Linked DNA regions of Homo sapiens. The protein of the gene in region 4 interacts with the protein of the main gene of each other region in a biochemical or structural test. Each region holds a gene or a part of one and is shown on either strand. Other genes may lie near its edges.

Region 1 (3,934 bases), on a different chromosome or scaffold from region 4:
TGTTTTGTTTTGTTTGGAGAAACTTCTAGGATTGGGGTGGGAGGATGGGGGTTGGGGAAGAAGAAAGATTTAAAAAATTATTCCTACTAATTTATGTCCTCCGGCTTCCCCTTGGTTACCTCTGTGGGGTAAACTGAATCTGTATCCCCATTTAACAGGTGCAAGGAGATTTCCTGGGGGCTGCACACACTGTGTGCAGCATATTGCAGGCTTTCACTCATTTAATATCTACAAAGTCCTCAATAAGTATATGAATTACTTATGATTTCCCTGTTTTTTCTTCCTATAAGGAAGCTGAGGCACAAGTTAATCAAAGTCTCTTGGCCTAGGGTGACACAGCTAAGATTTGTACCTAGAGATTTCTGAGTGTTGACTTCTCTCCTGCCCCCACCTATCTCCCCCCCCAAAAAAAAAAACACAACAACAACAACAACAGAACATACCAGGGATTCATGGCTTGCCCAATGTTGGAGGGGGAGAAGAGAGGAGAGGGATGAGATAAGCTCCTCCCACCCGGCTGACTCGCTGTGTGTCTCTTTTCTCACCCCAGGGCCTGGCCATGTCCCCTTTCGGAAGCCTGTTCCCTTACCCCTACACGTACATGGCCGCAGCGGCGGCCGCCTCCTCTGCGGCAGCCTCCAGCTCGGTGCACCGCCACCCCTTCCTCAATCTGAACACCATGCGCCCGCGGCTGCGCTACAGCCCCTACTCCATCCCGGTGCCGGTCCCGGACGGCAGCAGTCTGCTCACCACCGCCCTGCCCTCCATGGCGGCGGCCGCGGGGCCCCTGGACGGCAAAGTCGCCGCCCTGGCCGCCAGCCCGGCCTCGGTGGCAGTGGACTCGGGCTCTGAACTCAACAGCCGCTCCTCCACGCTCTCCTCCAGCTCCATGTCCTTGTCGCCCAAACTCTGCGCGGAGAAAGAGGCGGCCACCAGCGAACTGCAGAGCATCCAGCGGTTGGTTAGCGGCTTGGAAGCCAAGCCGGACAGGTCCCGCAGCGCGTCCCCGTAGACCCGTCCCAGACACGTCTTTTCATTCCAGTCCAGTTCAGGCTGCCGTGCACTTTGTCGGATATAAAATAAACCACGGGCCCGCCATGGCGTTAGCCCTTCCTTTTGCAGTTGCGTCTGGGAAGGGGCCCCGGACTCCCTCGAGAGAATGTGCTAGAGACAGCCCCTGTCTTCTTGGCGTGGTTTATATGTCCGGGATCTGGATCAGATTCTGGGGGCTCAGAAACGTCGGTTGCATTGAGCTACTGGGGGTAGGAGTTCCAACATTTATGTCCAGAGCAACTTCCAGCAAGGCTGGTCTGGGTCTCTGCCCACCAGGCGGGGAGGTGTTCAAAGACATCTCCCTCAGTGCGGATTTATATATATATTTTTCCTTCACTGTGTCAAGTGGAAACAAAAACAAAATCTTTCAAAAAAAAAATCGGGACAAGTGAACACATTAACATGATTCTGTTTGTGCAGATTAAAAACTTTATAGGGACTTGCATTATCGGTTCTCAATAAATTACTGAGCAGCTTTGTTTGGGGAGGGAAGTCCCTACCATCCTTGTTTAGTCTATATTAAGAAAATCTGTGTCTTTTTAATATTCTTGTGATGTTTTCAGAGCCGCTGTAGGTCTCTTCTTGCATGTCCACAGTAATGTATTTGTGGTTTTTATTTTGAACGCTTGCTTTTAGAGAGAAAACAATATAGCCCCCTACCCTTTTCCCAATCCTTTGCCCTCAAATCAGTGACCCAAGGGAGGGGGGGATTTAAAGGGAAGGAGTGGGCAAAACACATAAAATGAATTTATTATATCTAAGCTCTGTAGCAGGATTCATGTCGTTCTTTGACAGTTCTTTCTCTTTCCTGTATATGCAATAACAAGGTTTTAAAAAAATAATAAAGAAGTGAGACTATTAGACAAAGTATTTATGTAATTATTTGATAACTCTTGTAAATAGGTGGAATATGAATGCTTGGAAAATTAAACTTTAATTTATTGACATTGTACATAGCTCTGTGTAAATAGAATTGCAACTGTCAGGTTTTGTGTTCTTGTTTTCCTTTAGTTGGGTTTATTTCCAGGTCACAGAATTGCTGTTAACACTAGAAAACACACTTCCTGCACCAACACCAATACCCTTTCAAAAGAGTTGTCTGCAACATTTTTGTTTTCTTTTTTAATGTCCAAAAGTGGGGGAAAGTGCTATTTCCTATTTTCACCAAAATTGGGGAAGGAGTGCCACTTTCCAGCTCCACTTCAAATTCCTTAAAATATAACTGAGATTGCTGTGGGGAGGGAGGAGGGCAGAGGCTGCGGTTTGACTTTTTAATTTTTCTTTTGTTATTTGTATTTGCTAGTCTCTGATTTCCTCAAAACGAAGTGGAATTTACTACTGTTGTCAGTATCGGTGTTTTGAATTGGTGCCTGCCTATAGAGATATATTCACAGTTCAAAAGTCAGGTGCTGAGAGATGGTTTAAAGACAAATTCATGAAGGTATATTTTGTGTTATAGTTGTTGATGAGTTCTTTGGTTTTCTGTATTTTTCCCCCTCTCTTTAAAACATCACTGAAATTTCAATAAATTTTTATTGAAATGTCTTTGGGCCTTGTGTTAAATGTTTTTTCTTTGGGAACCTTTCCTGAAGATGGACAGTCAGGGGAGGGTTTAGTATCTTCTTGTTCTGAGTTTACCCCCTTCCCTTCGCCTTTAAATAATTAAGACCGCCCCCAGCGAACCAAAATGAGATGTCACTCAAGTTACAAAGCTAAAAACAAAAGTCCCTTACTTGAGCGAAGGGAGCCACTTCAATCTGAAATTACTTTTCCTTTAAATTAGGGAGCAAAGCAGGGAGACGGAAAGGGGCCTGATGAGAATACAGAAAGAAGGGTAATTTCAGATACTTTTAAGTTTTAATGGAAAAAGACTGATGTGCTCCCTAAGTCAGGTTTTCCCACCCGAATCCGACCAAAAGTAAGCTCGGCAAGTACGAATGTTTTTCGTTTTAAGCTCGCCCTCAGTTTTGACATCAATCTGGCGAATCCAAGTCGAAAATACCTTCTTGCACCAGTGTGTTTGGCTCGGGGAAAAGGCCAGCAGAATGCCCCAGCAGTCCGAGCGGGCTTGGCTAGGCAGCAACCCTCCAGGTTGTAGAAGTGGACAAGACGCAACGCCTTTCCACTCGGCAACCCCCCACACAGCCTGCAGTCCCTGGTGCCTCAAATTGAACCCGGCTGGCCCAAGGCGCCCCTACGAGGCCCCATCCATCCCGAGTTGTGCGTGCAAAGCGCGGCCAGCTCCGCGAAAACTTAGCTGTGTCACGCGAGGGAGGAGGGAAATTATCCCCGAAAGGGGAAAGGTAATTCCAGGGTGCACATTTCACCCCCTCCACGGCAAAAGTCACCCAGGAGGCTGACATCCTCCCCTAGTCTCCCCTTCAAACCCGTCTCCAGGCTGTTCGGGGAGTTGCCTTTTGAAGTTCAATTTATCTTTGAAACATTCAATAAAAAATGATGAGGCACTGTCAGTCTTTTGGTCTCCCGACCCCCAGCCTCGCCTCCGAGGTGTGTGTCTGTTGGGGGGCGGGGGCGGCACGGGAAGGTTCGAGGGTTAGTCCTTAGCCCTTTTCTTGCCCTGGGGGCCATGACGTGAAGACCCAGCTGGAGCCTGCCTGGCGGCTGCCTCCCTCCCCACCCCCCACCCGCCACCCCCTGGAGCCCGCCAGCCCGGCCCCAAGTCCCTGTCACCTTCAGGCCTCTTGAATGACCGGAGAGGAGGACGCCCCCTCCCTTCCCTCATCCTGTACTTGGAAGGGATCGAGGTCGAGACCTTTTGGAGAGCGGGGCAAAGCCCCTTCCATCTCTGGCCAGGCACGTGGGGACCCCTACAGCCTCCTCTGCGATGTCTCCGGGGGTGGGAGGGAAGACAGACAACCAG
Region 2 (5,790 bases), on a different chromosome or scaffold from region 4:
CTGGAGCTTCCGCCCCCGTAGCCGCCGCCGGAGCTTCCGCCGCCGGAGCTTCCGCCTCCGTAGCCGCCGCCGGAACTGCCGCCGTGGCCGCCGCCGTGGCCGCCGCCGGAGCTTCCGCCGCCGGAGCTTCCGCCGCCGTAGCCGCCGCCGAAACTTCCGCCGCCGCGTCCGCCGCCTCCGGAACTAAACGGGGTGAGGTCACATTCGGTTATCTCTAACGTTGGAAAACGGTGGGTAGCTTTCCAGTTGCCGTTAATTTAGAAAATAAGCAAAACGTGTTGAAAAAATAAAACCCTGCCAGGTATATATTTTAAAACCCATCCTTTGAAAACAATGTTAAGTTCACAGAACTCTTAAGAATCATTTTGGGCCAAATTCATGAGAAAGTGAGATTGCGGTTGCGTACTCCTTTTTCTGTACTCTACCCTCTCTCCTCCCTTCCTCTCATTCTCTGGCATCTTCTTGGGGTTTAGATAAGCCTTGCTATCTGGAATATTGAATAAAAGAAACTGGGATAACTTTTCATTTTAAAATTTACCTTCCCTCTCCTTCTAGCAGGCTGCGGTAGGTTTGAATTTCATTCTCCAGTCGGATCTTAATATCCAGGAGTTGTTGGTATTCAGTATTCTGGCACTCGGTTTCAGCTCGAATCTGTTGCAACTGTTCTTCCAGAGCGGATATCTGGGCCTGAATCTGTGAGAGCTGCACACAGTAGCGACCTTCTGTTTCTGCCAAGGAGGCTTCCAGGGATTGTTTCTGAAACGGATTTTTTTGTGGCTTAGTGACTTCCTTGTTCAGTTGAGTATGGTGACGCTTATTTGATTATTTAGTAAGGCATTATATAGAAGAATAAGAAAATGAACAGAATTTGTTGTATGTTTAATGGCACCATTTCAGTTTCAGCACTTTTAGATCAACACTAGTAGTACTTTTCCTCCATTAACATGAGCTTCACTTTGTTTTCTCTTTCTTACCTCCAACTCTGCATTTTTTTGTTGCATTGCATATTCTTAGGTGAGCATGAAACTTTGTATGATAAAGTTGAAGTCATTTCATGAGAGTTAACATACCAAGGCCAGTTGGGACTGTAGTTCTATCTCCAGAGCTTGTACATTACGTCTCAATTCAGTAATCTCAGATTTATAGCTGGATATCTGTTCAATGTTATTATCAATTTCTGTAGTCAGTTCCTTGCTCTAGAGTATTAAAAACAAGGAAAAGGGTGAGGAAATTCTGAAATGATAAAACCTCCATGAGTTTCACTATAAGGAAGATTACTTTACCTTTTCATTGAACCAGGCTTCAGCATCTTTGCGGTTTTGTTCAGCAAGTTGTTCATATTGGCTTCTCATGTTATTCAGAAGTTGAGTCAGATCAACACCCGGGGCAGCATTCATTTCCACATTCACATCACCAGTGGACACATTTCGAAGGTCTTTCATTTCCTGTTTGAGGAACAGAAAGATTTATTGGCTACACGAGGACCATAATGAACTCTCTTTTGGCTGGGAAAAGTATAACTTTTGTGTCACCTCCTCGTGGTTCTTCTTCAGATAGGCCAGCTCTTCAGTCAGGCTCTCAATTTGCATCTCCAGGTCAGCCTTGGTCAGGGTCAGCTCATCCAGCACCCTACGCAGGCCGTTGATGTCAGCCTCCACGCTCTGGCGCAGAGCTACCTCATTCTCATACCTGAAACAAGCATGATATCAATACTGGTTATAACTTATATAGGGGAGATGTATCTGGGCAGAGACTATTTAAAAAGCAGCTACATAGTTGATCTCATGTAATGGCAATATTTGTCATGTACAGTTCTCTTAGAAGTAATAGTGGTTTAATGGAAAAAACCTTAGCAGTTACTTTAAAATGCATTTTCTTCCTTTAATATTGCCAAAAAGGTAACACTGACATGGAAAATTTCTCAGATAACTCCAATACTATTTAACTTTGGGTGAATTCAGAAAAATGTAAATGTTATTGAGGGCATCCCAAGTCATTGTTAAAAACCACTGATGTATTCGTTGTGATAGTATTATACAACGATCACTTAACTTACTTCAGCCTGAAGTCATCAGCTGCCAGCCTGGCATTGTCGATCTGAAGCAGGATGTTGGCATTATCAGTTGTTAGGTTGAGAATCTGGAGGGAGAGGCACAGTTATTTGAGAAGAGGTCAGATGCAGATATGGCTTTTGTAGTGACATAGATGCACTCTGCACTTTTATGTTGTTCTCTTACAAAATCTTGGGAAAATTTTTTATTTTAAATATGAAATATTGCAGGCTTACCCATATACTTAACTTTGAATTATTTGTTCTCTTGGAATTTCTCCAGTCTTGTATTTCTGTACACGAATTATTCCTTTCTGAAAACTAACTGGAATTATATAGATGTATTCCTGTAAGTGTGCCCTCCTCTTTTAGACTATGTGATTTCCATGTATTTCAGCCATGCTTTGGCTGACTCACACCTGCATTTGTTTAACTCATGATAAATACTAATAAATAAATACACTCTGAACTGGTACACAATAGGTACAATTCAGAAATTCCTTAGAGGCAAGCAGTGTCCCATTTTCATACTGGAAAATTTATTTTTCTTGCCATGTTGGTACTGAATATGGCTTGTTATCAGTCTGAATAACATTTTGTTCTGATTCATATCATGATTTTTTTTTTCAGTTTCTACATTTGTAAATAGCCTAGCATATTTTAACTGTGGACTCATTGTATGCTCATTAAAACCTCAAAAGTGCTTAGTAAATCTCCCATCCTCTTAAGACAAGTAGCACACTTGCTGGATGAAGATTGCCATGACCATAGTTTCACAGATGTTTATCTTTGATGAGACTGGGTTATTTTTGAAGGAAGAAAGTAACATGGGTAAGCATAGTGAACAGCCACATTGTGCTTAATTTAAGATTCATCTGTCTGGATTACATGGACAAGATACTTAAAGCTGGATTTAAAAATACCTCTTACCTGATTTTTAAGGTCATCGATGGTTTTGTAGTATTTGCTGTAGTCACGAGGCTCCCCCTGATGTGAGTTGCCATGCTTTTCATACCACTCCTTGATTTTGCCTTCCAGCTCATAGTTTGATTCTTCCAGAGCCCGAACTTTGTCCAAGTAGGAAGCCAGGCGGTCATTCAGATTCTGCATGGTTACTTTTTCATTTCCAGAGAGAAGGCCACCATCTCCTCCAAATCCACCACCAAAGCCTCCTCCAAAGCCGCCTCCACCAAAGCCGCCTCCACCAAAGCTGCCCCCACCAAAGCTGCCACCTCCGAAACTGCCCCCTCCAAAGATGCCTCCATAACTCCCACCAAAGCTGCTACTTCCATAGCTTCCACGAAAGCTACCTCCACCAAAACCTCCTAATCCTCCATAGCCACCTGATGAGCCCCCAAAGCAGCCCCCACCAGAGCTCCCACGGCTAAAAGAGCCACCACTGAACCCCCCTGAGCTAAATCCTCCACCAAGGGAGCCTTTGCTGCTAGAAATTCTTAGGGATGACACTCCTCCTCCTCCTCCACATCCTCCTCCTCCTCCTCCTCCTCCACTGCGGGAGGAAGAGTAGTGCTTGCTTGAGCTGTATCGAACAGACATGGTGATGCTGTTTAGCCCAGGGAGTGCCTGCTACCAAGGACAGTGACAAGCCTTTATATACTGAGAGGGTGTGTCCACATGTGTTAGAGTTTGCTTACTTACATTGTTTTCTTTTTGCCAACTTAGCATCTTTGGCTTATGATTGCATAAATTATCTTCAGTAATAACCAATCCTAATATGTACAATTTTGAATTTGCCCTAAGAATAAACAGGAGGTTTGCTATGTTGAAATTGAAAATGGGTGGAGTTCAGATGAGCATGTTTTATTATGCTTTTCACCTGTTGAAGAACATTGAGCAACCGTTAAGATCCATTTTTCTCAGCACTAATTCAGGTTGCATAGAATGTTTGCAAAGTTTAGAAAAAAAAGTTTCAGCTACAAAATTATAGTTAAAATAAGATTTTTCAAATTCATGTTTTAAACAGTTTTAATTGGAGCAACAAATAGCATAAAGTCTGGCAGGATCATGCTACAATAAGGTTCTTGTAGACAACTGTAGGGAATCAAAAAGAAAAAGTTTCTAAAAATTTAACTAGCATCAATAGTTGCCACACATAAAACATTAAAGCCATAAAACCACAATTTAGGAGATTGTGTTTGTAGGAGATCTTTTAATTTATTTGGCAAATGAGAGTATATTGATATTTTGCCTAAGAAAGTGGAAGTAATGATTTTAGAATTTTCTAATTAATGATGGCATTATTTTTAACATTAAAAAATCTGAAATCATAAAGTTATCCTGGATTATTTTGCACTTTTAAATTCATCATAGTTAAGGTTTCTGTGAAGACCATAATAATGCAGAAAATCTGCATTATTTTCTTAGCATGAAATCCGAAGAACTAACTTGTAGTACTTTACACTAAGTTCTGATTGAGTAAAAAGGGAAAATTTGGATATGTTATGATTGCAAGTAAAAATTTGCTTGCAAAAATGTAAATCTATATTAGAGAATGATACTTGCACCAAATATTATGAACTAGACTGTGCACATGTGTTCCCAAGCTAGGTTCAGTTTCTCAATAAAAACAACACATTTTCTTGGATATACTGTGTACAGAATTTGGTATAACAGTTTGTCTAGTGAAGTAAATTGGGATTTTGGTACATTGTATAAGATTATATCTACCCATAGGCTATGACATTGCTGTTGTTTGGATGTATATATTCATACATGTTTTACAATTATGTAGTGCTGTTTGTGATACTGTGCTTTAAAAATTTCTAGAACAAGCTGTTGAGATAGGAATGGTGGTTATTATTATTTCTTTTCTTTCTTTCTTTCTTTCTTTCTTTTTTTTTTTTTAGACGGAGGCTTGCTCTGTCGCCCAGGCTGGAGTGCAGTGGCGCCATCTCGGCTCACTGCAAGCTCCACCTCCCGGGTTCACGCCATTCTCCTGCCTCAGCCTCCCGAGTAGCTGGGGCTACAGGTGTGTGCCACCATACCTGGCTAATTTTTTGTCTTTTTGGTAGAGACAGGGTTTCATCATGTTAGCCAGGATGGTCTCAATCTCCTGACCTCTTGATCTGCCTGCCTTGGCCTCCCAAAGTGCTGGGGTTACAGGTGTGGTTATTGTTATTTCTAATTTATAGAAGAGGAAGTTGAAGTTGAGAGGTTGTGATTTTTTCCTGAAGATATGTAACAGGTGGTTGAACTGCAATTAGAAGCTTGGTCTTTTAACTCCTTGGTTCTTTTCCACTTTACCAATGTGTATATATATTATCTGCTCCAGTGGATTTGGTCTAATGGAGATGAATGACTCTAATTCTCACCGTAAACTTCTCCAAATGGGGAAAAAGAGCAAAACAAAAAGAACTTAGAATCATGAAAATATTCAAAGGGTAATGATTTGGCACACACTCTACCTTTAGTAATTGTTTTTTCAAATTAAGTTTATTGCTGCACATTTTGGTTTATGAAAACTACAGAAATAGTTTCTGTAGGGAAGGGAGTGTGGTTGGGAGCATTAATCAAATGTTGATTGTTAAAGTGGAGGTTACTACCCAGCAGATTGCAACTCTTCCAACTTGTTAGCACATGCAAATGGGGCAGTAGTTAAAAGAAAAACTGAAACCCAACCATGGGAATTGATTCTTGATGAAGATAACCTACAGTTAAAGAAGGCTATGATAAATCAGGATAGGAAAAGAAAAAACTCCAATAACTTCAGAGAACATGTT
Region 3 (5,223 bases), on a different chromosome or scaffold from region 4:
TTAGTACAGATGGAGTTTTGCCATGTTGGGCAGGCTGGTTTCGAATTCCTGACCTCAGGTGATCCACCCGCCTTGGCCTCCCAAAGTGCTAGGATTACAGGTGTGAGCCACCGCGCCCGGCCTATTATTATTTTGAGACAGGGTTTCACTTCTATCCTCCAGGCTAGAGTGCAGTGGTGCGATCTCGGCTCACTGCATCCTCCCCCTCCCACGCTCAAGTGATTCTCCTGCCTTAGCCTCCTGAGCAGCTGGGACTACAGGCACACACCACTGCACACAGCTAATTTTTATATTTTTTGTAGAGATGGGGTTTCACCATGTTGCCCACGCTGGTCTCGAATGCCTGAGCCCAAGTGATCCTCCCACCTCAGTCTCCCAAAGTGCTGGGATTACAGGCATGAGCCACTGTGCCCAGTCATAAATTTCTGCCTTTTATAAGGTCACCAATCATGTTGGATTAGGGCCCACAGTAATGACCTCATCTTAACCTGATTCCCTCTGTAAAGACCTAGTCTCCAAATCAGGTCACATTCTGAGGTACTGGGGCTTAGGACTTCAACATAGAAACTTAGGAGCGTGCAATTTAACCCCTAAGATTGGTTGATGCTTTATCAAAAATTTTGATGTTTTTCTTTTGTTTGTATGTATGTATTTATTTTATTTATTTATTTTTCAGACGGAGTCTCACTCTGTCACCAGGCTGGTGCAGTGGCGTGATCTCGGCTCACTGCAACCTCCGCCTCCCAGGTTCCAGTGATTCCCCTGCCTCAGCCTCCCAAGTAGCTGGGGCTACAGGTGCGCACCACCATGCCCAGCTAATTTTTTATGTTTTTATTAGAGATGGGGTTTCACCATGTTGGCCAGGATGGTCTCAATCTCTTGATCTTGTGATCCGCCCCCCTTGGCCTCCCAAAGTGCTGGGATTACAGGCGTGAGCCACCGCACCCAGCCTTGTTTGTTTTTTTTAAAGAGTGGTTGAGGCTGGGCGTGGTGGCTCACACCTGTAATCACAACACTTTGGGAGGCCGAGGTGGGTGGATCACCTGAGGTCAGGAGTTCAAGACCAGCCTGGCCAACATGGTGAAACCCTGTTTCTGTTTCTACTAAAAATACAAAAATTAGCCGAGTGTGGTGGCATGCACCTGTAGTCCCAGTTACTCGGGGCTGAGGCAGGAGGATTGCTTGAGCCTGGGAGGCGGAGGTTGCAGCGAGCCGAGATCCTGCCACTGCAGAGTGAAACCCTGTCTCAAAAAAAAAAAAAAAGAAGGAAAAGAAAAAAAGAAATGGTTGAGTGTCATGGTTTTTGGATGTCCAATGGCTGGTTCCCATCCTTGCTCTGCCACTTGCTAGCTGGTACCCTAGACCAGTCACAACCCCTCAAGGGGTCTCAGTTTTCACATTCATAAAATGGGGATAATCATAAAACCCTTGTTGTCAGGATTTTGTGGAAAGTGAATGAATTAATACAGTTAAAGTGCTTAGGGCATGGCCTGGCATCTAGTAAGTAGGCACTACATGTTAGTTTTTATTATGGTTATTATTGTAAGCATCAGACTCAGTCGTGGGATCACCTCCTCCAGGAAGCCTTCCCTGATTGCCCCAGGTTCAAGCTGTCTTCTGGGCTTCCCTAGTGCTGTCCGTGACTTCTTTGGATCATGTCTGGCCCAAGATGGGGGTTCTGAAAGAACATGCCCTCAGGTGTTGGACTCTTCCCTCTCTTCCAGATGTACAGGTGGATCATCTGAATCTCCTGAAACAGTTTGAACACCTGGACCCTCAGAACCAGCATACATTCGAGGCCCGCGACCTGGAGCTGCTGATCCAGACGGTAATGGGAGTGGGTCCGGAGGCAGAGGATTGAGGGTAGCTTTGCGGAAGGGGAGAAGGGGACAGAGTCCCAGACGTGAGCCAGCTCACCATTCCTGCTGGTGTTCTCTGAGGTTGGAGGCTGGTAGAGGGCTGAGTCGTTTCTTTTCTTTTCTTTTTTTTTTTTTTTTTGAGACGAAATCTCGCTGTTTTCCCCCAGGCTGGAGTGCAATGGCACAATCTCGGCTCACTGCAACCTCCGCCTCCCGGGTTCAAGCGATTCTCCTGCCTCAGCCTCCCGAGTAGCTAGGATTACAGGTGCCTGCCGTCACGCCCAGAAAATTTTTGTATTTTTAGTAGAGACAGGGTTTCACCATGTTGGCCAGGCTGGTCTCGAACTCCTGACCTCAGGTGATCCACCCGCCTCAGCCTCCCAAAGTGCTGGGATTACAAGTGTCAGCCACCGCACCCAGCTCTTCTTATAGTGATACCCACCGTAATCTAGCAGGCCATCATCTTAACTAATTACATCTGCAAACACTCTATTTCCAAATAAGATCACATTCTGAGATTCCAGGTGGACATGAATTTGGGAGTGTGGGGGGAGTATACTGTTCAACCTGGTATTGTTAACTCCATTTTACAGAGGTGGAAACTGAGGCACAAAGAGGCTGAGTAACTTGCCCAGTGTCACAGAGCTTATGAGATTTGGTCACAAAGCAAAGCCTAGATTTGAACGCTGGGCAAAATAGTTAGAAACCTCTTGTTCTTTTTTTGGTTTATTTTTACTTTTTTTTTTTTTTTTTTTACCTGAGACAGCGTCTTGCTCTGATGCCCAGGCTGGAGTGCAGTGGCATGATCACAGCTCACTGCAGCCTCAACCTCCTGGGCTCAAGCAATCCTCCCACCTGACCCTCCTGAGTAGCTGGGACCAGAGGTGCAAGCCACCGCACCAGGCTAATTTTAAAAATTTTTAGTAGACACAAGGTCTCGCTGTGTTATGTGAGTTAGTCTTGAACTCCCGGGCTCGAGTGATCCTCCCACCCTAGCCTCCCAAAGTGCTAGGATTCCAGGCGTGACCCACCTCTCCTAGTCTGACCTTATGTTCTTGGCCACCTAGCTGTACCTGAAATACATAAATACTAAGTTCACCACATATGTTGTTCCTATTTACTTATTCCTCCAAGATCTGGAGATTGTGGAGGACTTGAAAGAGGTGGGTTGAAGTTGCTATTGTATAACCGTCCCAATCTGTTTTGAATAAAGAGAAGAAAGTGTGTTATGGGGCAGGAGCAGTCATGGAAACCAAAAAGGGCGACATCAGGCTGTGCGCGATGGCTCACGCCTATAATCCCAGCACTTTGGGAGGCTGACGTGGGCGGATCACCTGAGGTCAGGAGTTTGAGACCAGCCTGGCCAACATGGTGAAACCTCGTTTCTACTAAAAATACAAAAATCAGCTGGGCCTGGTGACACATGCCTATAATCCCAGCTACTCGAAAGGCCGAGGCAGGAGAATCACTTGAACCCGGAAGACAGAGGTTGAAGTGAGGCAGTGAGCAGAGATTGTGCCACCGCACTCCAGCCTGGGCAACAGAGCAAGACTCCCTCTCAAAAAAAAAAAAAAAAAAAGGGACATTAGGACACGAGACGTAAGAAAGACAGGTAGAGGCTGGGGCTGCCCTCAGCCAGGTTCAGGGCCAAGGGCCTGCCATTTACAGGCTGGAATTGGGGGCTGGGCAGAGGGGGCAGAGGGGAATGACCCTGTGCCTTTCCCCAGGCCACCCGGGACCTTGCCCAGTACGACGCAGCCCATCATGAAGAGTTCAAGCGCTACGAGATGCTTAAGGAACACGAGAGACGGCGTTATCTGGAGTCACTGGGAGAGGAGCAGAGAAAGGAGGCGGAGAGGAAGCTGGAAGAGCAACAGCGCCGGCACCGCGAGCACCCTAAAGTCAACGTGCCTGTGAGGACCCCATTTGTGCCCATCCACTCCCTACCACATCCAGTTCAAACGCAAGACAAGAAAGCAGTTAAAGAACTACAATTCCCAGGGGCCCTTGAGGCAAAAAAACTCCCTGTTACTGTACCTGGCTGCCCCAGGGTCTGCTGGGAGTTGTAGTTTTCTTAGTTTTCTTGCTTGAGGGAGATGATGTTTGTTGGATGAGGGTAAAGGGATATTTGGTTTTATCCCATGGCATCCAGACTTCTTGCTCATGAGCTCCTGGCTCTCCCCTCCACAGGGCAGCCAAGCCCAGTTGAAGGAGGTGTGGGAGGAGCTGGATGGACTGGACCCCAACAGGTTTAACCCCAAGACCTTCTTCATACTGCATGGTAAGGTGGGGAGGGAGTTCCAGAGCCAGGATGAACCCTAGATTCTGACCCTTCTAGGACCTGAATGCTAAGAGGGGTGTGTCTGTCCCAGGAGGGCTTAGTCAGGCCCAAGAGCCAAGCCTATGTCCCCTGGTTGACCAGACAGCCCTGCCTCTCCCGACTACAAGGCTAGGATCTGCATGGAAGGGTTGGGCCTCTTTTCTAGCAAACACCAGACCTCGGGGTTCTAAGGACAGCTGGTGTCCTCTGTAAGCAAACCAGGCTTGGCTAGGCCTGGGCCCTCTGCCCACAGCAGCCCAGGAGAAGCCCTGGTCCACTCTGGGAACCCTGTCGCTAGGAGTGGGTTGTTCCCTAAGAACCAGGCCTCCAGAAGCCTGGAAAACCCTTTCTCTTTTTCTTTTTCCTTTTTTTTTTTTTTTTTGAGATGGAGTCTTGCTCTGTTGCCCAGGCTGGAGTGCAGTGGCATGACCTCGGCTCACTGCAACCCCCTGCCCTCCGCCTCCCGGGTTCAAGTGATTCTCCTGCCTCAGCCTCCCGAGTAGCTGGGATTACAGGCATGCACCACCATGCCCGGCTAACTTTTGTATTTTTAGTAGAGATGGGGTTTCACCATGTTGGCCAGGCTGGTCTCGAACTCCCAACCTCGTGTGATCTGCCCCCTCAGCATCCCAAAGTGCTAGGATTACAGGCGTGAGTCACTGCGCCCGGCCTCGAAAGCCCTTTCTCTATGGTGGATCAAAGGCACACTCCCCTCAGTCTGTCTCTTCCTGTCTGGAAATGTGGCCTGGGGTTGCCAAGCCCCCTCAGGTATGCCAAGCACCCTGTCCCAGAATCTGTAGCCGGTCAGATAAGCTTAGCAAGGCCTGACTCATTCATTCAGCAAACCTTTCCTAAGTTCCCTCTAAGGACCAAGCTTTGTCAAGACCCCGTGGATACAACTGTAAACAAAACAAAGTACCTCCCCCTCAGAGCCAGTGATCAGGCACACAGATCATACCATACTTTAGTAACTCCACGAGACTGTACAGTATGAGAGGTGCTAGCATTTTACGTAAGCTGCCAATTAAATTAACGTACCATTGA
Region 4 (5,223 bases):
TTCACCATAATGGGATCAGCCAATCTCCTTTCCTTGGATATTAGGATATTTTCAATTTTTTATTTTCATACAGACACTTAAGTGAATGAAGCAAAATGTCTGCACATATTCTTAGTTACCTAAAGGTATGATGTTAGATTGTTTTTCTTCACTCATATTTTTACTACATCAGAATGTTGATTACAGTTATCTTTGATGGTATGATGTGAGATTATTACTTTGTTTCCATACTTATTTTCTCTAAATGCCTTGCAATGAACAGGTTTTATTTGCATAAACACAATATTATTTAAAATGATGCCATGAAAATTTCTATATGACCACCGTTTTCATGGTAATGGCTTGTTACGGCTGCCTGTAATTCCACATAGGGGATAGGCCGTAATTCACTTAACCATCCCCTATCATTGACCGGCTGGGCTTTTTCTAATGTCTTTAAGATCGTTATACAGGAAACCTACTCCATATCTGGGGTTACGTCCTCAGGGAGCAGCCCAGCAAAGGCTGGTGAACAGATTTCACACCTTTGGTTCATCCTGCCAAGCTGCTTTCCCGAAAAGATGTTCCAATTTCCCCTCCCACCGGCAGTGCGTGGGAATGCCTGCCCAGCCGCCCTCCTCTCCCTGAGACGGTTCAGGCCCCTGGACAGTCGCATCCTCTGCTAGGAGGGCAAGAGAAAGCAGGAAATAATTTGGCCAGCAAGTGACCCCAGACCCAGAGCCAGGAGTGATTTTTAACAAGCCTGATTCTCAGAACAGAACCTGCAGAGAAAAAGAAAGCAAGCAAGGAAAAAAAAAAAAAAACCCCTCTCTACTGGAAAAAACATACACATACACAGATTAAAATAATATTTGGCACTTACGTCGCACTTTTAAAATTCTTCAAACGCTTTATAAACACTAGCTAATTAATTAAGCCGCCTAAATCTGGCTGCAGTCGGTGGAGAGAGCTCGAGAGGAGCTAAAAAAAAAATGGGGGAGCCAGCGCTACACAACTCCAGATTTTATTGTCGCCTGCCTGGGGTGTGATTACAGGCCTCCGGCTGCACCACAAGAATAGCCCTGCTCCAACATGCTGCACGCCTGACTCCGCAGCCTCTCCTGCGCCTCCTGCTCCCTCACCAACTGCTGACTCACAGCCCCTTGTGGTGTTATTGATAAGGATAATAATAACTGCAAGCCAGGCTGAGTCCCGGGCTCCGGGCCTGCACCCTCCCCTGGATATGCCAGTATCAACTCCACCTAACACATGAAGAGAGAGGAGATTTGCCCAGGGTCATGGAGCCAACGACATCCTTCCTTCCTTCATTCATTACCGCATTCATTCTGCATATTTTTATCGATGACACTGTGTTTTAGGCAGGAGGTTGGAAACAGTCCCTTGTGGATCCTACATCCTACTATTGGGAATGTGACAATCCAGAGAAAATCAAATATGTGAATAATACAGCTATGTGATAATAATGGGAATAAGAATTAAAACTTACCCAGCACCTATGCAGCAGGCATACCACCGTGTCAGGGTCCTCATGACTGTGCTGGGGTGGATGCCGGAACCCCACTTCATGGATGATGGAATGGGGGTCCAGGGAAGGTGGGTACAGAGGTGGCTAAGAGGGGAGCCATGCTGTCACCCAGGCCTGCTGGCCCTAGCAACTGTGCTTCCCCGAGGCAGCCTTTCCAGTTGGTCCAGTCTCGAGGCTGAAATACAGACCTATCCGGAAAGTTCCTAGCTCAGTGCTGCTGGTGCTGCCTCTGATGTCCCCGCCTGGATGGGCCTCCCGGGCCTCCCACACATTTGGCCACCAGCCTCACCCCTCTCAGGCCGTCTGATGCTGGCTGGGCCTCTGTCCACTGTGGGTTCTGTCTGTCCACTGTGGGTTCTGTTTTTTTCTCCTGTGCCATGAAGATCTTGCCATGTTCAACTTCAAATGGAAATGAAATGAGAAGCTGGACTTCCTGATAATAAAAGCAGTTGAGGTCTTAAGTGGTTGATCAGGAAAAGGAAGTCGAAATGGTAATATTTACACCCAAAGCAGGTGGAGTGGTCTTAGGCACTCTGAGACTCCACTCACCTGCCATGAGAACCGGGCCCCAAGGGTGATCCCTTGCCAGAGTCAAGACTGGGTGAGGCTGGGAATGGGAGAAAGAGGCAGGACAATGGGCAGATAGCCCTGGGCTTCCTGCAGTGAGGGCAGATAGGGGTCTGTGAGCCTCTTTCCCTGGCTGCCCTGCCCCTGCCAGTGGGGTGGTGCCAGGCCATGGGTTGGTGGGCAAATTCACAGGGTCTCTCTCCTCCCCAGCCAGAGCCAGAGGGGCACAGCAGCTCTGGACATCTGCCGCAGCCTTGTCTGATGTACAAGGCAAAGGTGGCCCAGGTCAGGGCAGGACAAGGTCACATGAAGGGTCAGTGGAGAGCCCAACTGGGGCCCCAGGTCACCTGTCACCTGCATACCAGGTAGCTGCCACTCCTCTGTCTACCTGGTTCTCTCCTTCTCCCCTATTCTAGCTCGCTCTCTCACTCTGCGTCTGTCTCTCAGGCATGTGTTTCTCTGAGGTCTTTATGATCATGATCTTTCTTTTTTTTGTTTCTTGTACCTCACCTTGTTCAGAATCGAGGCCCTGGCTCTGCCTTGCTCTGAACTGTTCTCACTTGGTCCCTATCCATCTTCAACGCATCTCATGACAAGCTCGTCCTGCCCTCTTCCTGTCTGGGCTCCCCCCGTGCACCCCAATCTCTCCACCCAGGGTCCCTGTCTTGTGTGCCCCAGTGTCTCTGATTGGGGCTCAGGCTCCTGCAGCCAACCTCTACAATTCCTTCCAGCTGCCCATTTGGGAGCCCTTGAGGCCTGGACTGGGTCCAGCTCCAGTGTGTCCCCATCACAGTGAGGCCTGGATCACAGGGCATCAGCAGGTGTTGGTGAGAGTGAAGTTTGAGCCACAGCCACCTCCTTGTTTATTCAATGTATAGTAACAACAACTTCCTCAGGGCCCATCTCAGGGCTAAGTGACTTCTATGTGTGATCTCGTTTTCTTTTCAGAACAAAGCAGAGGCCTGGGGGCTGTTCTACCCATCCTGTAGATAAGAAAACTGAGACTCAAAACTGATGGATAAATTAAGGTCCCACAAGAACAAGGGGCGAGCCAGGTTTCAAACCAGGTCCGATGACTCTAAAGACCAGATGCTGCATTTGGACGCTGTCCCCAGCCTTGGCTTATTTTATCCTCCCAGAGATCCATCGAGGTGGGGTCATAGTAACTATTTTACAGATGAAGAAACCAAGGCTGAGAGCAGTAAGGGCAAACTAAGGGCAGCTCTTGCATTTGTGTGACACTTTGCTAGCCAGGCTCAGTCCTGGGTTCCAGGTGGGGACTCAAACACACTGGCACGAGTCTACATTGGATATTCTTGGTTACCTGAGTGGTGGCCCAAGGACACAGCTATAGGCCACTGATCCAGAACTCAAACTACATTCTCCTACTGCCCAAACCGCTGAGTACAGCCTCCCTTCTCGGGGCCTGCATCCTGGGCCAGGCCAGAAACAGAATCTTAACACCTTGTACAGCCCCAGATATGCCAGGCCCCTACCTCTGAGTCTTTGCCCAGGCTGTTCCCTCTGTCTGGAATACCAGGCTCCCTTCTGGCTCATTCAGATTAGAATTAGCCCAGCTCAGATGTGACTCTTCCAGAGAGGGTCCAGGCATTCAAACCCACTCTCTGCCATGTCATTTAGCTTTCTGTGCCTCAGTGTCCCCACTTAGAATACAGGCTCATGTTGCAGGTTTGTTGTGAGGGTCAAATGAGATGATACATGCACTATACTGATCTCACAGCCTGCTTCTGGTGTGCATCCAGTCAATGAACGTCATTGATAAACACTTGAGGAAACACAGAGGATCACGTAAGGATGAAAAAATGACTGCTTTGTGCTCCTTTCCAGGAGTGGCGGGTGAGGAGGAGCTGCAGGTGATTCAGCCTGACAAGTCCGTGTTGGTTGCAGCTGGAGAGACAGCCACTCTGCGCTGCACTGCGACCTCTCTGATCCCTGTGGGGCCCATCCAGTGGTTCAGAGGAGCTGGACCAGGCCGGGAATTAATCTACAATCAAAAAGAAGGCCACTTCCCCCGGGTAACAACTGTTTCAGACCTCACAAAGAGAAACAACATGGACTTTTCCATCCGCATCGGTAACATCACCCCAGCAGATGCCGGCACCTACTACTGTGTGAAGTTCCGGAAAGGGAGCCCCGATGACGTGGAGTTTAAGTCTGGAGCAGGCACTGAGCTGTCTGTGCGCGGTGAGTACAGCGTGGGCCTCCTTTGCCTCTGGTTTGTGACAGTAACTCAATAATAACACCCTCCATTCTTTGAGCAATGATCAGGTGTGGTGGTAGGTGCTCCTTTCCATGAATTGATGTCTCCCCCTTTTACAAATAAGGGAAGTTGAGGCCTGAAGACGTCATGCTATTTGCTGAAGGCTCCACAGCTGGTAAAGGGTGGGAACATCTGCATCCTTCATCTGCCTGGCTGTGTAGCCCTGGCCTCTTCAAAGCTGACCCAGCCCTTTCATTCCACAGATGAGGAAACTGACAGATAGTGTGACTTGCCCAGGCACAGGACCAGACCTCACCTGCTGCCTCCAGAGAGCACTTCCCTCTCAGGGCAGCCGAGTCTCCTCTATGTGACAGGCACTCACTGAGAACCTACTGTGTGCCAGGCTCCGCCAAGCTTGTGTTCTCATCCCTTCCAATAAGAGATCCACCCAGGGCAGGGAGCAGAGAGGGTGTGTTTCCTTTATTTCATCACCAAACACCAACTGAGAAGATTCCTAAAAGGCACAGATTTACTGTTTAATCTGATGGCCCTGGTGAGAGGAGAAGCCAGAGGGTTGGGCATTTTCTGTGGGTCTTTTAGAAAAACACTTGTGTGATTTAGGGACTGATTCATGCGTCACTAAAGGCTCTGAACAAAGCTGGGTCATCATAGAATGTCTCTCACCCCAGGGAGGAGGTCTCCCTTCTAGGTGACTTTGGGTTCCTCCGTTAAGGCAGCAAAGATGCTCATTTTGTATTTACTGCCAGAGCCCCAGGATCCTTGTTCTAACTCCGAATCCTGGGACATTAGTACAGGAAGGACCCTCAGACCATCCAGCCCAACCCCTAGTTACAGGTGGAAACTTGAAGTCAGGAGATGACAGGGGCCTTGTCCACAGTCATAGGCCCAG

Evidence for each region. Proteins that work in one complex are often made in the same cells at the same time.
Region 1: the proteins of SIRPA (region 4) and TBX3 form a complex in vitro, tested with the Homo sapiens proteins (one large-scale study listed by BioGRID).
Region 2: the proteins of SIRPA (region 4) and KRT10 form a complex in vitro, tested with the Homo sapiens proteins (one large-scale study listed by BioGRID).
Region 3: the proteins of SIRPA (region 4) and NUCB1 form a complex in vitro, tested with the Homo sapiens proteins (one large-scale study listed by BioGRID).

Annotation. Positions count from the first base shown.
Region 1 is NC_000012.12:114,668,919-114,672,852, reverse strand, and holds the end of TBX3 (T-box transcription factor TBX3), read left to right. Parts: intron 1-550; coding exon 551-1,012; 3' UTR 1,013-2,598; downstream 2,599-3,934.
Region 2 is NC_000017.11:40,818,979-40,824,768, forward strand, and holds the start of KRT10 (keratin, type I cytoskeletal 10), read right to left. Parts: upstream 3,637-5,790; 5' UTR 3,608-3,636; coding exon 2,981-3,607; intron 2,140-2,980; coding exon 2,057-2,139; intron 1,690-2,056; coding exon 1,533-1,689; intron 1,446-1,532; coding exon 1,284-1,445; intron 1,197-1,283; coding exon 1,071-1,196; intron 757-1,070; coding exon 539-756; intron 302-538; exon of another isoform or gene 184-301; coding exon 1-183. UniProt on the Homo sapiens protein: Plays a role in the establishment of the epidermal barrier on plantar skin.
Region 3 is NC_000019.10:48,909,425-48,914,647, forward strand, and holds part of NUCB1 (nucleobindin-1 precursor), read left to right. Parts: intron 1-1,505; exon of another isoform or gene 1,506-1,724; coding exon 1,725-1,828; intron 1,829-3,586; coding exon 3,587-3,772; intron 3,773-4,049; coding exon 4,050-4,140; intron 4,141-5,223. UniProt on the Homo sapiens protein: Major calcium-binding protein of the Golgi which may have a role in calcium homeostasis. Acts as a non-receptor guanine nucleotide exchange factor which binds to and activates alpha subunits of guanine nucleotide-binding proteins (G proteins).
Region 4 is NC_000020.11:1,911,159-1,916,381, forward strand, and holds part of SIRPA (tyrosine-protein phosphatase non-receptor type substrate 1 isoform 1 precursor), read left to right. Parts: exon of another isoform or gene 1-3,164; coding exon of another isoform or gene 3,165-3,243; intron 3,244-3,940; coding exon 3,941-4,297; intron 4,298-5,223. UniProt on the Homo sapiens protein: Immunoglobulin-like cell surface receptor for CD47. Acts as docking protein and induces translocation of PTPN6, PTPN11 and other binding partners from the cytosol to the plasma membrane.